2 separate regions of the Homo sapiens genome follow, and region 1 is linked to region 2. Evidence: fine-mapped expression QTL. Tissue or cell type: whole blood. Region 2 holds a variant in brackets; the other region holds the start of a gene. All regions are shown on one strand. Distances are from middle to middle.

Region 1 (5,117 bases), 110 kb after region 2:
AAACCCTGTCTCTACTAAATACAAATAAATAAATAAATAAATAAATAAATTAGCCGGCGTGGTGGCACATGCCTGTAATCCCAGCTACTTGGGAGGCTGAGGCAGGAGAATCACTCGAACCCTGGAGGCAGAGGTTGCAGTGAGCCGAGACTGCACCACTGCACTCCAGCCTGGGTGACAGAGCGAGACTCCGTCTTGAAAAAACAAAGATAACAGTCTTTGACTTGCAGGAGAAGGACCAGCTACTGCTCCACATGCCAGAATGCAGTTCTGCTGCCAGGCAAGTCACAGTGGACACTGGGACATGGAGTCAGTCCAGAAACACCCAGAGGTGGCTGGCAGAAAGCTGGGATTCTCCACGCCCAGACCAGATGCTGCCCGGGGGGCTCTGGAGGCATGTAGCCCTGTCTTCCCCTGACAGGCTCACCAACCATATCAGGCAAACAACTCAGACACAACAGCCTGGAGGGCTGCACGGGAGGGTTTGAAAATTCCTTGATCAAAAAAAAGTTGTTTTTTTTTTAGAGATGGGGTACTGTTGTGTTGCCCAGGCTGGAGTGCAGTGGTGCAATCATAGCTCACTGTAATCTCAAACTCCTGGGCTCAAGTGATCCTTCTGCCTCAGCCTCCCGAGCAGCTGAGACTACAGGTATGCACCACCATGCCCAGCTAACTTTTAATTTTTTTTGTAGAGACGGGGTCTTACTATGTTGCCCAGGCTGAAAAAATTTTTTGGATATTTTTATTCCAAAGATAATGAATATGAAAAACACAGTGTTTGCTAAGCTAATCTAAAATTAAACTACTGGTGCCACTTTGTTTCAAAATATACATGTTGTTTTCATTTTTCTACCTACTTGGTAACGTTTCAGTCAGCCTTTCTTTTCCAAAGCACTAAATGCTTGTTTATTGTAGATTAAACAGATGACACTTAGAAATGGCCATTTTCTTTCATGTGTTATTCAATGCTGGAATGACGCTAAACTTTTTGTATTTGAGATTTTTTCCAACTGTGGTAACGTCTGCACACATTAGATCAAATGTGCAGTTTTTTGTTTTTGTTTTTGAGACGGAGTCTCCCTCTGTCGCCCAGGCTGGAGTGCAATGGCGTGATCTCGGCTCACTGCAACCTTCGGCTCATTGAAACCTTCGCCTCCCAGGTTCAAGCTATTCTCCTGTCTCAGCCTCCCAAGTATCTGGGATTACAGGCATGTGCCACCACCCCCGGCTAATTTTTGTATTTTCAGTAGAGATGGGGTTTCAGCATGTTGGTCAGGCAGTTCTCGAACTCCTGACCTCAGGTGATCCACTCGCCTCGGCCTCCCAAAGTGCTGGGATTACAGGTGTGAGCCACCACCCCCTGCCAAATGTGCGGTTTTTGTGAAACGCAGATCTTAGGTGTATAACCTGGTGGATGTTTTTAATCACCTTGCAACCAAGGTCCCTATCTAGTGTCGAAGCCTGGGAGTGGTGAGTTGTGTGCTTCTGAAGACAGGTGCAGTTGGGTCAGAGTTTTTAAAAACACGATAAAATGTAAAAATACGGAGTCCCACCGTTCCCTTCCGATTCTGGAGGATCATTTTGCTTTGTTACACTTTGCTTCGGTATCGAGTTTTTGAGTGTGGGGAACTTTCCGGCCCGGGCTGACAAGGGCTGCCAGGGCCAACGCCGTGCGCTTCTCATCCACGGATTCTCTACGGGAACTGCGCCGGGACCCAGAGGGTCGCCCCGCCCGCGGCCGCCTGCACCCGCCCAGCGAAGCCCTGCCCCGGCGGGAACTTTAACCAGGACGACCCAGCCAGACGCCCCCTCTGCGGGGGAGGCGAGGGCGGTGATCTCCGGGCCCACCGGACTCACCTGTTTGAAGCAGAAGGGCATGGTGAGGACACTGACCCCTACGATGCTGTTCACGATGTTCGTGATCAGCCCCCAGTTGGAGGCGGCGGCCGCGGTCATAGTGAGAGGTCTAGGGGCCCGGGGCGAGAGGCCTCGGGGGTCGCCGGGCTGCGGCCGGCTTTGGAAGCCCAGCCCGAGGCCACGGTCACAGGTCCCAACGTCCGGGACGCCGGTGGGGAGGGGATGGGCAGCCTGAACACGGGAGCCTGAGCAGGCGCGGGCGCGGGCCCCAGAGGCTGCCTGGAGGAGGCAGCCTCGAAGGCCGGCTGCGGGGGCGAGGTCAACCTCCGGACCCCGCCAAGCCCTGCGGCCGCCTCAGGGCCATGCGTCCCTCGCTCGGCCTCGCGGGCCGCCTGTGAATCTCCGAGCCCAGACCCGGAAGAGCCGCAGAGCCAGCTAGGGACACCTCAGCCCAACTCAGCTGCCGCCGCGGCGCTCACACTTCCGCCTTCCACGGGCTCCGTTGCCCGGAAGTGACGGCCAGGGGGTAGGGTTTGGTGGGACGCGAGCCAATGAGAGGCGGGCCCGGAGGGGCGGGCGGAAACTGGGCCGGTGGGCACCTGAGGGTCTCGCAGCTGTCCGGTTCGCCAAGCTGGTCCAGCCGACCTGTGCCCGGGGCCCCAGTTCAACGAGCTGGAGGACAAGGGACTCGCCCCGCGAGGCCTCGGTTTGGATGGGCAGTCGCGGGCTGGAGAGAAGGGGAGGCGCTGTGCCTTCCGGGGAGGAGCGGGTTTAAGGGTTCCTTTTTGACCTTTATTCCCAGGACCGATTCTGGGGCGAGTGCTTGGCGCCAGGGCACGGGGGCGGGGGCCCTGACTGCCTCAGCCGAAAAATAGTCTGTTGTGAGGAATTAGCACCTAGGAGGTAGGAATGAAACGCTGGGCACAGAGAGGCTCGGCCACTCCGCTAAGGCCACACAGCTCCAAGGGGAGGCGGTGCCCTGCCGAACTGCGCCCAGATCAGTGGCAATGTTGAACTTCACCTTTTCACACGAAAAGAGCAAGGGACATTCCTGGAGGGGACAGGAGAGGTGGAGGCTTACATGAACAGGGAAACCCGGGAGGGCTTCCAGAAGGAGGTGGCTTCTAGGCTGGAGCTTGAAGGACAAATGAGAATTCCTCGGGTAGAAATGGAGACCGGGGAGAGGAGAGAACAGAGAAGGGTCCCGATAGATCTGTGGATTCCTGGCACCTAGCTGCTCACTCTGAGTCTAATGAATGAGCGCGTAGACCGAATGGCTGGGAAGCAGCAAGTGATTCCAGGCTGCTGGGGGAGGACGGCGGAGGAAAGGAGGCCGTGTCTGCAGCACCTGCAGGACCAGGTGTCTTAGAACAGAGGCCCGTTCCTCAGGCACTGGCAGTGCAGCCACCAAGTAAGGCTGTGCCCCACCTTCAGGAGAACAGGAGGAAATGCCTGGGTAAAGACTAATTAAATACGCAGGCAAAATAACAAATGCCTGCGTTCTTTTTTTTTTTTTTCTTCAGTCAGAGTCTTGCTCTGTCGCCCAGGCTGTATATGCAGTGGTGTGATCTTGGCTCACTGCAACCTCCACCTCCCAGGTTCAAGCTATTCTCATGCCTCAGCCTCCCAAGTAGCTGGAATTACAGGCTCCCGCCACCACACCCGGCTAATTTTTGTATTTTTAGTAGAGACCAGGTTTCACCATGGTGGCCAGGCTTGCCTCAAACTCCCGACCTCAGGTGATCCGCCCACCTCGGCCTCCCAAAGTGCTGGTATTACAGGCATGAGCCACCGCACCCAGCCCATTTACTTTTATATAAATGAAATGGCATACACATTCCATAACCTCCTTTTTATTATGTAATTTTCATCAAATGTTATGCATGCGAGGTAGGCTGGGCAATTTACATGTATGTTTTCACAAATAGCAAATACCATGGACCCGCTATTGAGCTTTAAGAACAAAATATTACCGAAGACTTAGATCCTCCCTTTCAGTTCCTCCCCAGTTCCAGCACCTTCTTCCCCTCTTCCCTGCTATCCTGAGACATCACAATCCAGATTCCATCAATTCATTACTTTTCTTTAAAGGTTTACCATATATGGATATATCCCTAAACAATTATGGGGAAGACTATTTGTCTCTTTTTTTTTTTTTTTTGAGACAGAGTCTCACTCTGTCACCCAGTCTGGAGTGCAGTGGCACAATCTCAGCTTGCTTCAGCCTTTCCCTCCTGGGCTAAAGTGATCCTCCCACTTCAGGCCCTCAGTAGCTGAAACTACAGGTGTGTGCCACCATGCCCAGCTAATTTTCACTTTTTTTGTAGAGATGGGATTTTGTCATGTTGTCCAGGCTGGTCTCAAACTCCTGGGTTCAATCGATCTGCTCACCTCGGCCTCCCAAAGTGCTGGGATTACAGGCGTGAGCCACTGCGCCCAGCTGACTCTCTGTCTCTTAATATTCGTTTATTCCATTTTCCAAATTAATAGGAATTGGCCTGCACGTATGACTGCCTAGGATAAAAAATACACTTCCAGCCGAGCATGGCGGCTCACACCTGTAATCCCAGCACTTTGAGAGGCCGAGGCAGGCAGATCACGAGGTCAGGAATTTGAGGCCAGCCTGGCAAACATGGTGAAACCCCATCTCTGCTAAAGATACAAAAAATTAGCCAGGCGTGGTGGCGCGCACCTGTAATCCCAGGTTCTTGGGAGGCTGAGCCAGGAGAATCGCTTGAACCCGGGAGGCAGAGGTTGCCGTGAGCCAAGAGCGTGCCATTGCACTCCAGCCTGGGCAACAGGGCAAGACTTTGTCTCAAAAAAATAAATAAAAGACTGGGCGCGGTGGCACACGCCTGTAATCCCAGCACTTTGGGAGGCCAAGGTGGGTGGATCACGAGGTCAGGAGATCGAGACCATCCTGGCCAATATGGTGAAACTCTGTCTACTAAAAATACAAAAATTAGCCGGGCGTGATGGTGTGTGCCTGTAATCCCAGCCACTCAGGAGGCTGAGGCAGGAGAATCGCTTGAACCAGGGAGTCGGAGGTTGCAGTGAGCCGAGATCGCGCCACAGCACTCCAGCCTGGCGACAGAGTGAGACTCCGTCTCAAAAAAAAAAAAAAAGAATACACTTGCCAGTGTCCCTTGCAGGTAGGGCTGGCTATGTGACCAAGTTTTGGACAATAAGAAGCAGAAATGACAGGAGAAACTTCTAGGTCATTTCTTAGGAGGGGGTCTGCCGCTCCTTCATCATGCTGT
Region 2 (5,180 bases):
AATGCAGCCTCCCTCAAGAGGCTGCTGAGACCCCTGGGGCCCCGCCAATGGCAGATGACACTGTTATTACATTCATTGTCACCTGTCACATATCATGACCGTCACCTTCATTAGTGAGGACAATACCCTCCCACCTCCAACATGAGCAGAGGCTACCACGGCCTATGTAAGAGGCCCGGGCAGTCCTGTGGCTTCCAGTAGAAAGCCAGGCCCCCCCGACCCCGGCAGACAGCCCCATCCCTGGCTTCCTCACAGGCCTGCGGTGCCCAGCATGACCACCCCACAGGGGCAGGGCTGTTGGCACCACCCTCCCTGGCAGAAGGTAACCGTGCCCCTGGTGTATTCAGAGCCAGCCAGGGATCACCTTGGCCCTCCCTGCTCACCACCAGGGGAGGGTGGTTTGGGAGGAGGACGTGGCTTGGATAAACTTTGTCCCATATGAACTTGGAGCCTCCCCACCCCCACCGGCCTGCAGGCTGTGCTGTGCCCCTTCCACCCGGCCCAAGCCCGCAGGCTGGGCCGCAGCACCCACTCGGCTGCCCCTTCAAACCCCACTCACATGTCTGGCCCTGCAACCTGTTTCCTGCACCAGAGCTGGGGGGGGCAGGGTCCCCAGCCTCAATCTCCCTGCACCACCCCCACCGCCCGCAGCCCCTCCCACTGTGTACAACCCGCTGCACTGGAGGCCCGAGGCGTGGGTTCCAGCACCATGACCTTGGGCAGGTCCCTCAGCCCCTCTGACCTCAGGCTTCCAGCTGCTGTCTGCCCAGCTGGCCTCGGTCACCTGCTCACTGGCTCACTGGTGCCCTCTCTTCCTCCCTAACCCCGCCCCAGGTTTGGGGAGGCCAGGCACTGCTAAGGGTCAGTCTGCCCAGACCAGTGTGGACACACCAAGTGCCTGCGAGCCCCTGGGAGCTGCCCGTGCCAGGCTGGAGTGCCGGGGAGGGGCGAGGACAGCTGCAGCCCCGAGATGTAAACAGGCTTGCAGGTATAAAAGCTGGAGCCCCTGGGCCTCTCCACACCCCAGCCTGACCCACCTTCCAGAACTCTCGAAAGAAGCCAGGCAGAGGTAAGCCCTGCCAAGGAGGGGGGTGTGGGTCTCTGGCCGCTGAGGTTATCCGAGCTGGATGGTGGGAACTTGGAGGCCTTCTCTTCATCCACAGGACAAGGGTGGCCCTGGGAGACCCCAGGGGACCCAGGGGAGGTGGGGAAATGGGGTGGAAACAGAAGGAATGGCCCTCCCTGCCAGCAGCACCACTACAAGCCCCAAGGGGGCCCCCGGATGGAAGACAGCTGCAGGTGCCTGGTCCTGCGGGGAGCACATGTGTGCACGTGTGTGCTGGCACGAGCCTCTGTGGGCACGGCTACAAGAGGCGGCTGTGAGCTGGGGCCTCTGCATAGGGAGCTGGACCTGCTCACTCTGTCCCTAGGCCCCCAGGCTCTAAGTGGGGATGGAGATGGGGTGGGGCTGGCAGGGCAGCGAGTCCAAGGCCTCTGGCCCCCGGACTCCAGCAGGCACACAGAGCCGGCTCTGGTCCCCACACTCTGCCCCTGACCCAGAGGGACCCCACTGCCTCTATCACCCCTTCCCCCGAGAGGCCTCTCTCATCTCAGCATCTGCCCTTGGAGACTGGGTGGCAGAGGCTAGTTGCTGTGGGCAGACCACAGCTTCCGAGAATGGAAGGTCGGGAATGGCCCGGAGCAGGGCATCCCAGATGTAGCAATGCTGGGGCGGTGTGTGGTCTGAGGGGTCTTAGCCCAGCCTGGAGGCTCCAGGATCTCTAGCTGTGGAGGGTGGGTAAAGGGAGTGGGGAAACAGAGGCCTTTTGGCAGGGCCTTTCCTGGCACTGAGGGCAGCCCCCAGAATCTGAGCAGGGCCCAAGGACAGCTTGTGTGGCGTCCCGCAGCCTCCCCCGGCCGGACATCCCAGCTCACTGGGATCCCATTAAACTCCAGCCCGGGCCGCGGATGCACGAGCTATAAATAAACCAGCAGCCTGGAGCTCCAGGCCTGCCTCCCACCCTGTCTCCAGCCCGGATCTCGGGCTCCCCTGCCTTCGTTGGGGGCACCCCTGAGAGCAGTGGGATTGGGGGTGGTGAA[C/T]GAGCCCAGCCCAGGGGCACCCCCAGCACTGGGCAGATGGGACATTGGTTCCTGGCTTGGCCACATTTAGCCTGGAATTCGGCCCAGCCCCTCCTCTGTAAAGGAGGTGACATTGGGCCCGGGGCCCCGAGTGGTAGGTGGGTGTTCCCTCTTCCAAAACAGGTCCCCAAGATGCCAGGGTTGGGGAAGGTGAGCCAGAGTCCCAGCTCTGAATGAAGTGGGGCGGGGCCTGTCCTGAGGGCCTCCGAGGCCCAGTCCTGCCCCACATGCCCGCTCACCACCACCCTGCTGGCTGGGGGAATCAGCCACTGCAGGGGCTGTGGGGGCCCAGCTCCAGCCCCACAGCAGCGGGCAAGCCCATTCCCCACCATCTCCCTTCCCTCCTGGCTCCTCGCACAACCCTGTGAAGGGGCAGGCGTCTCCCCACATCACATGGCAGCTGGAGGCACCGAGGGTTGGGGAGCAGGACCTGGTCCAGGGGCTGCAACTGGCGCTCCTCACACCTCTGGGGCGCCAGGGTTGGGTTGCAACCCTTGACCTATGGCCTCTCTATCCAGAGGAGAGCAGAGATGCCTCTGGCCACTGCTCAGCCCCACTCGAGAACACAGGCCGCCCCTCCTGGCAGCAAGAGCGTTCCAGAAGGCTCTACCACCCTGTGAACTTTCACGAGGGCCAAGAAGCCCAGGACACCCGCTTCCCCTTGCGCTCTGAGATAGCTGCTGTGCTGAGCCCCAGAACCCAACCCCCCCTGGGGACGGCAACCTGAGAGCCCAGCAGGTCACAAGGCGCTGCCGTGAGGCGCACAGGATGGCCCGGCCCCTCCCGCTGACCCCTCTGCCTGTGCCCAGACCCCCACCTGCCTGGCTGGGATCCCAGCATGTCTCGGGGCCCTGGCATGACCCCAACACTGTGACGCCTGTCACCATTCCCACTTTACAGCAGGATCCAGCACCACGCGGCGTCTACGTCTGCTCTGGCCCAAGCAGCACCCCCAATCCGTGCGTGCACCCCACGAATTGACTCCCTATCCACCCAGGACCAGGATGGAGGAGGACTTCTCCTCCCAGATGAAGAAGATGGCCTTGGCCATGGGCACGTCCCTATCAGACAAGGACATTGAGCTGCTGCCCACAGACATGAGACACCACGGTACAGCATGCCCCCGCCCGGCGCGGCCCCCCGCCCGTCCAGCCCCGCTGTGGTCAGGAGACCTCATCCCTTTTCTGGGGCTGATGGGTCCAGGACACCAGGACCTGCGGCGGGCGGGGACATGGGGGTGCAGGACCCGGCAGCCCCCATCCCAGGGCGGGGTCTTCCCTGGAGGCCCAGCTCAAGTGAGGTGGGCCCCTCCGTGAGCCCCGCCTGGTTGCCCCAGGGTCCTTCAACTACCTCAAGTTCTTCAAGCACATCCGCAAGCTCCACGCCTCGGGCCAGCTGGACGACGCCATCCACACGGCCTTCCAGTCCCTGGACAAGGACAAGAGTGGCTTCATTGAGTGGAACGAGATCAAGTAATGGCTGGCGGCCACGGAGGGGTGGGGCCCAGGCCACCCAGACCACGCCGAATGCCCACATGGCGGACCCGGCCTTCCCCCACCGGGTCCCCGCTGGCCTTGCAGCTGGCAGGGCTGGGCCAGAACCAGCTAGAAGCCCAGGAGGCTCAGAGGCCCAGGCTCCCGGCCCGAAGTGCCCTTGCCTACAAGGTGGGGGGCGAACGGCTCGTGAGTCACTGGGCACTGGCCGGAAGCCCCTTGGCCCTGACTCGAGCCCCCTTGGCCCCAGGTACATCCTGTCCATCATCCCCAGCAGCGGGCCCACCACCCCGCTGACAGACGAGGAGGCCGAGGCCATGATCCAGGCGGCAGACACACACGGGGACGGGAGGATCAACTACGAAGGTGGGGGCAGCACAGCCGGGGCACCCTCAGGACCCTCCTTCCCCTGCTAGGCCGCCACCCTTGCCCATGGCCCCGCCCCGAGGGCACTGGCACACAACTCACAGATGAGGAAACCCAGGCTCAGGGGTCTGGGCCGGGAGTCTAGGTGCTCTTCCCTGGGCCAAGGGCCCCACTGCAGAGAGGTGGCCAGGAGGGCTTTGGGAAGGCCAACTGTGGCAGAGCCAGCGGGTATGGGGTCTCAGAGCTCGGGGTGCCATCTTCTGGGGGACCCACGGTCTTTGAGGCTCTCCATGGCTGCCCTGAGGTCTGGGCCATCTCACCCCCACACAACCCCAGTGGCTGGCCACAGGCCTGGAGGGTGGAGGGCACACAAGGTGGGCTGGGCCTCCAGACACCGCTTGCCCAGCCACCGGCCGTTCTCATCTGCCTGGGTCTAGAAACCCCAGCAAACCTGGCTTGTGGCGGGGGGGTCACAAGGCTTGACAGGCATCCTGACCCCTCTCAGAACTCAGGCCCCCCAGCTGCTCCGTGCCTCAGTTTCCCCACTGAGAGATGATCATCAATGAGCACCTGCTCTCAGAGGGTCTGGTGGGAATTCCTGAGAGTCTCTGCAGAGAGCCAGGCCACTGCAAGCCCCCAGTCCCCAGCTGGGGTCAACTTGTGACGACCAAGCAGCTGGGCCCAGGACAAACAGCTCCAGCGTGGGGCCGCCCCCGGCCAGATGGGCTGGAGGCCTGGTCCCTGCTCAAGGACTTGGGGACAGGACCCCCTGGACTGTGTAGTCCAGGCACACTCCCTCTGCCTCCTCTGAGAGTTAAAGGGCCTACAGGAACTGGGGGACACAAAACAGGGGTACTTACTTTAAATTGGTCTCCTGCTCTAGAATTTTCTGAATTGATCAAAAAGGAGAAAATTCCAAAGAAGAAGTAGCACCATGACTAGCCCTGGCCAGCCAAGGGGCTCCCATGGGGTAACCGGGGTGACCACGCACCTGGGCAGAAGCCGTTGGGGCCGGTAAGAGGCGGCAGCCGTGAGGGTGGACCCAGCTTTTGAAGGAAAATGGAAGAAAAGCAGCATTAAGTGAATGACGCAGCCTGGTGTGTCTGTTGGGGATGCTGGTATGAACTGGGGTGGGGGCAGCATCAGGGCCATGGGTGACAACGGCTGGGGGGCAGGGTGGGC

The links. PIP is the estimated chance that this variant, and not a neighbour inherited with it, causes the effect.
Region 1: it holds the start of SLC38A10, and the variant in region 2 is fine-mapped to the expression of SLC38A10 in whole blood (TOPMed, PIP above 0.99).

Annotation. Positions count from the first base shown.
Region 1 is chr17:81,292,966-81,298,082 of GRCh38, forward strand. It overlaps SLC38A10 (solute carrier family 38 member 10), which reads right to left and starts at 2,342. Exons shown (of 16, transcript NM_001037984.3): 1 at 1,858-2,342. The coding sequence starts at 1,956. It overlaps LOC124904082 (a long non-coding RNA gene), which reads left to right and starts at 4,941. Exons shown (of 2, transcript XR_007065941.1): 1 at 4,941-5,117. RefSeq lists silencers at 1,818-1,887, 1,988-2,257 and an enhancer at 2,918-3,007.
Region 2 is chr17:81,178,084-81,183,263 of GRCh38, forward strand. PVALEF (parvalbumin like EF-hand containing) reads left to right here. Exons shown (of 7, transcript NM_001354639.2): 3 at 835-1,069; 4 at 3,040-3,249; 5 at 3,476-3,611; 6 at 3,883-3,998; 7 at 4,882-5,083. The coding sequence starts at 3,144. The coding sequence ends at 4,928. Among named protein-coding and RNA genes, the nearest start is that of AATK, 14 kb to the left of the region's middle. The variant C/T (reference allele first, on the strand shown) is at 2,101.